2 linked regions of the Homo sapiens genome follow. The protein of the gene in region 1 purifies or fractionates together with the protein of each later gene. This does not show direct contact. Each region holds a gene or a part of one and is shown on either strand. Other genes may lie near its edges.

Evidence for each region. Proteins that work in one complex are often made in the same cells at the same time.
Region 2: the proteins of PLEKHG1 (region 1) and NUP93 purify together in Homo sapiens (affinity purification with mass spectrometry, with the first as the bait; one large-scale study listed by BioGRID). This does not show direct contact.

The regions. Positions count from the first base shown.
Region 1 is NC_000006.12:150,598,417-150,602,684, reverse strand, and holds the start of PLEKHG1 (pleckstrin homology domain-containing family G member 1), read right to left. Parts: upstream 2,801-4,268; 5' UTR 2,690-2,800; coding exon of another isoform or gene 2,668-2,689; intron 1-2,667.
Region 2 is NC_000016.10:56,845,129-56,847,957, forward strand, and holds part of NUP93 (nuclear pore complex protein Nup93), read left to right. Parts: 3' UTR 1-2,829. UniProt on the Homo sapiens protein: Plays a role in the nuclear pore complex (NPC) assembly and/or maintenance. May anchor nucleoporins, but not NUP153 and TPR, to the NPC. During renal development, regulates podocyte migration and proliferation through SMAD4 signaling.

The sequences.
Region 1 (4,268 bases):
TTATCAACAACAATCATCTTCAAAGCACACCATATGTGCCAAACACTGATACGAATCATTTCATTTAATCCTTGGCATAACTTGAGACAAGGGCGGAGAAGAAAGGAGGAAAGGTGTGAAAATGAGGAAAGGTGAGAAAACCGAGAGACACCAACTATGATTTTTACTTTTCCTGGTTATGAAATAATCCATATCTAAGTAATTTCCTTAAAGAAGTGAAGGTCTCAAAGCTACAGAGACGTAGATGTGAGCATCACACAAGTAGGCTAATTCTAGATCACTGGATCTTAACCAGACTTCCTAAATCTTTAAGATGTAGGGCTGGACTAGGTCATCCAAGAGCCCTTCTGGGTTTAATATTCCAGGGACCTAATCATGCTGCAGGAGGATTAAAAGATGACAACTGCTTGAAAGACCAACCACCAGCAATGAAAGGAGTGGAGAGGAAAAGAAATCTGCAAAAAAGTGAACGGCCGCCATTAAGATAATAGCTTCAGGAATTGCTTTTGGTTGACGAAGGGCTCAAGAGATTTAGTGCTACTCAAGCATTTCCCATATTTATGGGACAGACTATGAACCATTCGATCTTAATTAAATCACTGAAAAATCATATCCGCAAAGGGGGAACACAACATAGGACTGGTTATTCTTGGTTTTGAAAAATTATGTTGCCACTTCCTATTGTTTTAAAAATGATCATTTAACTTCTTTGAACTACAGCCTGAATCCCCCACTGAAATATTTAAGCCTGTATTCGGTGACAGTCACCTATATTAAAGGCATTGAAGGAAGCTGGTGCCCCTAATTCAGGGTGCCCATTTAGAGTAGGGGAAGCAGGAAAATGCCACCAAGGACGAGCAGAATCGGGGCAGTTATCTGGCATCTGATTGCCAGGTAACTGTTTCTCACTTTGCTTTGCCCTTTAGCAGAGGACTTGGGGGGCTGCTACACAAGGATGGGGAAGGTCGTGCAGCCATTGCTGTTGACTGTGGACTGCTACTGATGACCTATTTGAGGATGAAGCCAGGGAGGTGGGAGCACTCTGAAGAAAAAAGTTTCTTTAGTCAGGTGGTTTGGTGGCTTAGAATTGGGACCTCAAATGAGACAAAAAGTCAAGTCAGGAATTGGGAAGCCAGACTCAAAATGCTGAGAGAGTCAAACATCAACCCGTTACTTTTCTCTCTGTCTTAAATATTGTAGACCAAATTACAGGGGGTAGGGGTTTGGGAGGGGGATGAGGAATGAGCAGGAGGCCGTAGAAGCTATCTGGTTCGTGTGCACTGCTTTATAAGGGAGGCAGCCAAGACGACCAGAGGCAAGTATCTTGCCCAGGGTCCCACAGGGCAAAATTAAAGTTCGAAAATTTTCTGATCTCCTGAAATGATGGGCTTGGAAATGTTTTTAACAGCAATTTAATCAAAATCCAAAATCTCTACATTTTTTAGAAGTATGCTGTCTACAGAATCTGAGAATCCAGAAGATGCCGGTTTTAACACCTGGTTGTTATTGTACCGCATTACAGGACCTACCCAAGCCCGGAATTCTGTTAGATGACAAACTGGACCCTAGAGTTAACATTCTAGTCTTTCCCCCGGTCTAAATACAAAACACAATATAGTTCTGTATCCAATCTGTTCAAAACTCCTAAACCAACTCTCAGTCTGAGATGGTCCTCGCGGGGTGATACCTGCCCCAAACACCCACACTCGGTGATTTCGAAAATACGTGCAGTAGCCTCGGCCACCTGCGGGTGGTACAAAGGGCGCCTTGAGGACCAGAGCTGGATGAAACGCCGGCTTACAAACCCCGCTCCGCCAGCACATTCAAGTCAAGGATCCAGCTCATTGTTTCCGAGGAGCGGAATGAATTGACCAGCCGAGCGCCGTTCTCCCAGTTAGAGCGTTCCCAAGCTTCCGGCTTCGGAACGGGGCTCACCGCGAGGACACAAAAGGGGCGAGCTCGGGCATCACTGCGGTTCCCCGCCGCCCGCCGAGGCCAGAACGCTCGCAGAGTCGCGGCCGCCCAGGTGTTACCGTTTACCCCGTGACGGAAGAGCCACAGGCTCTTGACTCCCCACCCCCTGAAAAGCGCATCTGCAGAACGGGGGCGCCCCCAAGCCCTGAGCGCCGCAGCAGCTCGGCCGCCGCCCCCACCGCGCGTCCCCGGGTCCTCGGGCTCCCGGCTTCGCTGCTGGGGAGCTGACCCAGCTGACTGGCTGTGGGGTCCCGTTCTGGGGCTGTCCTGCTGAGTCGGGGGTGGGGAAGCGGTGGCTACAACTCCCGGGTGCTCGCAGAAACTCCTCTGCGCGCTGATGTTGCAGCCGCTGGGGCGAGGGGCGGGAGCACCGGGAACTTGGGGGCGCGGAACCCCAAGCGGGGCGGCGGCGGGCAGCATCCCCGACCCGACTCCGACCCCCGAGACGCGGCGCCCCCCAGCGCCCTCCGTCCCCACCGCGCGGTGCCCCCGGCGCCCTCTGTCCCCACCGCTCGGCGCCCCCCAAGGCCCTCCGTCCCCACTGCGGAGGGGCGCGCAGGGGGCCGGCGGGGCCCGGGTACCACGCTCCGCCCGGCCCCACCTGCGGATGTGGGGCTCCCGCCGGAGGTCCCCGGGTCCCCCCTCCCATCCCTGGAAAAGTCCCCAGGGCGTCCGGGCCCGACCGGCGCTTACCCGGGGAGGGACGGCTTCGCATGCCCGGGCGGCGCTCGCAGGTCGGGCGGGGAGGGTGCGGGCTGCGCTGCGCCGGCTCGGGCTGCCGGAGCGCCCTGCAGCCGCCGTCGGGCTCGGGCTCGGGCTCAGGCTCGGGCTCCGACTTCCTCTTCCTCGGGCTCGGCCCCACTGCTCGGCCGCGCCCCGGCCCGCCCCTCCCCGCGCCCAGACGCCAGCTTCGGCGGCCGGAGCAGTGGATCGCTCGTCCCGCCTCCCCTCTGCCCTGAGGGTGAAAAAGGTGGAGAGGAGGGGGGCGAAGAGAAAGAGAAATTAGGCACTTGGCCTTGTCTCTGGAGCCTTGCCAAAGAGAACAGTCAAATTACAGCTTCGGGGGGAATAAAGTTTTTTTTTTTTTTAATTCTGCTACTGTTTTCGCAGACACATCACTTTTTTTCATTTTCCTAGCTCTTCAGGTTTAGCTTTCCTTTGGACGTAATAATTTCCTATGTGAGTCCTTTAAAATAATACCCAAAATCATGGTTTTAGTGAACATTCTAGTTTTACATAGAAGCTTTGCCGGTAATCAAGTGAAAAGAGGGGGAAGCCCGGTGTTCTTCAGGCGTCATTACCCTAATCACCTCGGTTAAAGCACCAAACGACCTTTGCCTAGAGAAAGTAAAAGTGGAAACGGAGGTAAAGAATAACCGGTGACAGCCAGAGAGATGTTTAAAGGCACCGGCTCTGCAGTAAAGTTATGACTCCAATCAAAGGTGCCTGCAGCGACAGTTAAAGGCATGTGAAGTCATTTCTTAACACTAATCTCCCGCCAAAGTCGGACGTATCAGGGTCGCCTGTGGACCCCCTTAGGTTTGGTGGTGGATTTGATTGCACTCTTAGTTGTTAACAGACCTTCAGCCTTACCACTTGCTAGCTGTGTGGCCTTGAGAGAACGCTTTAACCTCTCTGTGTTCTGTCTGTTTCCTCATCTGTAAAATGGAGATGATGATGATGATGATGATGATAGTGCCTACCTCATAGAGTTGCTGTATGTGATTTAAATAAGAGAATGTGCGTGAAGGGCTTAGGAGACTGTCTGGCACATGCTCTACAGCCTGAATAAATGTTAGCTATTCTTGTTGATTTTTGCCTTTTATCTGCTTTTATGCATATACATGATTATGGAAATTATCATAAAGACTGGGAACAAAACAAGGTTTGTGCAGTAAGGCTACACAGCATCACAGTTCTCTACCACGTGGAGTTTATGTTCTGTTTTATAATTTGAGTCTCCACAACTGACTTGTATTACCTAAAACTATGGGACTGGGTTATGCTTGGAATACATTTACCACGGTAGATTTGCAATGGGACTAAAACAGACATTTGCCATCTTCAAAGCATTGTTTCAGTTGGCCTTGCGATAACCTTGTGAGGTTGACAGGACAGGTGCTAGTCGCCTTTCACAGACAGGAAACTGAGCTTAATTAAGACCCTGCCCAGCTTCTGGAGCTCACACAAAATCATGCCTGTTACCCCATCTCTCTATGTTGTGATTTGTGTTAGAAGTGTGCAGTATGTTTGTGAAATAGTACCACATTAATGGTTTCCATCAACCCTGTGAG
Region 2 (2,829 bases), on another chromosome or scaffold:
TGGTCCAAGACCATCCCCCAAATCATCAGCTCTGATTGCAGGATTCATCAGTTTGCCGTTCTGTTGCAATCCCAGTGGAGATAAAAGCATAGACCTAGAAAAAGCCTTAAGAAGGAAGGTTGCAAGTGCCCCCAGCTTGCACTTGAGGAAGGGGTAAACCTTGCCACTGCACTCCTCTGTAGCTGCTCCACTGTGAGTTGACTGCTCGGCCTTGTACACACCCCTCCTAGAAAGACGTTTAAGCCCCTATTTCCCTTCTCTGGTGGTCAGTTCCTCTGCTCAGACGACCCCCTTCCCCACTCATTAAGGTAATTGGCCAGGCAGGCTCATGGGTCACGTGCTGAGTCTGCAATGTACAGAATCCAGACCACCACATGGCATCAGCACCATGGGTGTTTGCTCCCTGAGCAGTAGTTGTCACCCATCATTTGCTCTGTTTCCCCCACCATCAGTCCCAAAGCCCTAGACTAAACCAGAGAGCAAATTAGGTCGTGTTTGTTCCTGAATGGGCCAACTGGAGCCTTGAGACAGTGGGCAGTGGTCTGCTCTGCTGGTTTGATGGACGGCTCCCTGAGGTAGACTCTTTCCCAGCAGAATGTTAAGATCCCCAAAGGGTCCCCAAAGGTGCCTTTGCTTGTAGGGAGAAGTTTCTGTCTTGTCACAGGGTGTGGTCATCCCCACTGTCTCCCAGTTGTTAAAATAATTGTTACCTTTTCTTTTGGGAAGAAATAATCTGTAGATAATGGAACCAACTGCTGCTTATCGGTAGGATTCCATGTTCCAGGAAGGATGCGGCCTGAGGGTCAGTGGAGCTGTGTTCTGCCTTCCTCCTCTAGTCCCATCTTGTCACCCTGGAGGACTGTCTTCAATTGAGCTTTACTAGAAAGTCTTGAAACATGAGCCCTGCAGAGGCCTTGATTTAGCAAGTTGTGCCCTGCTTATATGTGCTGATTTAAGCTAATCAAATGATTTAATAGTGCTTTTTAAAAAAGAGTACTCCTGGCCGGGTGGGGTGGCTCACACCTGTAATCCTAGCACTTTGGGAGGCCAAGGCAGGTGATCACCTGAGATCAGGAGTTCAAGACCAGCCTGGCCAACATTGTGACACCCCGTCTATACTAAAAATACAAAAATTAGCCGGGCATGGTGGCAGGCACCTGTAATCCCAGCTACACAGGAAGCTGAGACAGAATTGCTTGAACCCGGGAGGCGAAGGTTGCAGTGATCTGAGATCATGCCACTGCACTCCAGCCTGGGTGAAAGAGCGATACTCCGTCTCAAAAAAATAAAGAGTACTCTGGCCGAGTGCAGTGGCTCACGCCTGTAACCCCAGCACTTTGGGAGGCCAAGGCAGGCAGTTCGCTTGAGGTAAGGGGTTTGAGACCAGTCTGGCCAACATGGGGAAACCCCGTTTCTACTAAAAATACAAAAATCAGCTGGGCATGGTGGCAGGCGCCTGTAATCCCAGCTACTCGGGAGGCTGAGGCAGGAGAATCACTTGAACCCAAGAGGCGGAGGTTGCAGTGAGCCGAGCTTATGCCACTGCACTCCAGCCTAGGCGATGGAGTGAGGCTCTGATTCAAAAATAAAAATAAGAGTACTCTGTGGACTTTTCATAAAGTGCAACTTAGTGCTTTGTTTTTCTAATACTAGATTTTACTTGCAGATAGAAATATAACAATGCCACAAATGAGAAGGCTCAAGTTGTTTAAATACATGTTTGCTCCTGGCTTACCTCTTCTTCACTATCCCATGAGAATCGTGGATTTGCCTTTCCTTGCATCCTGCAGTTCTACTTGTCTCAGAGAGAACTGCACACCAGCCCTGCATCCAGGGGATGAGGTTCTTTGACCTGTAGATGGGTCCTAAAATGAGAAGGGAGAGAAGCAGCCAGACCTTGAGCTGCTCTGCTAGGGGAGCTGTGAGTTGGGAGAAAAGTGGTCACTGGTTGGCAGTTAAGGACTTGCTGAGAGAGACATTTGTAGGAGAAAGAAGATAAGTAGGTTCATACCAGAAGGGCCAGGACTCGGATGGAGCAAATCCCAGTTCTTGTCCTACAAGCTGATTGTGCGATTGAGCACAGGCCTCTGGAATTGTGCAGAGATGAGAAACAGGCTGAATTTGCAAGGCCACAACATCAGGTTGTCATGTACCCATCATTACAGCTTATGCCCAGAAGTCCTGACCCTGTGACAGGTTATTATCTTAAAAACTCATCTTCAGCCCACTTTTTCAGAGAACTAACTCTTTCCTTAGATGTTGGGCCAGGATTTCACTATTTACCCAGAGAAACTAAGAGAAAGTGGCACTAGGCGTCTTGTCTTCCAGATGTGAGATTTCGATCTTTCTAATGAAATTGGGGGCACTTTGAGACTGTCAGGGTTTGTTCCTGTCTCAGAATGGCTCATAATAAACTCACTGAAACACTCAAAGGAAAGTACTGACTTGATCTGGATCCTTTTCAGAGGCCTGGAGATTTAATTTCACAGATTCTCTTCTTTTGGCTCAACAACAACAGCAACAAAAAACTCTTTGACTCCCCAACTTCAGAGGGAAAACTGAAGCGAAACTGGTGAGCTCTGCCACGGCAGATGCCTTCCTTTTTCACTCACGAGCTGGGCGGGCTCATCAAAGAGCAGGAAGTGCCCATTTTACACTGGGGCCAGGATGCAGACCCAGCTCCTGTCCTCCGCGAACTTACAGTCTAATTAGAGCCTCTTAAGGACAATTTGGCAGCCACTGTTAACTCTTGATGCATCATTTAAATCCTAGAACAGGCAGCTTTAAAGCAAAGAACTACAGACTTTTCCGCAGTGTCCAGCATTTGCT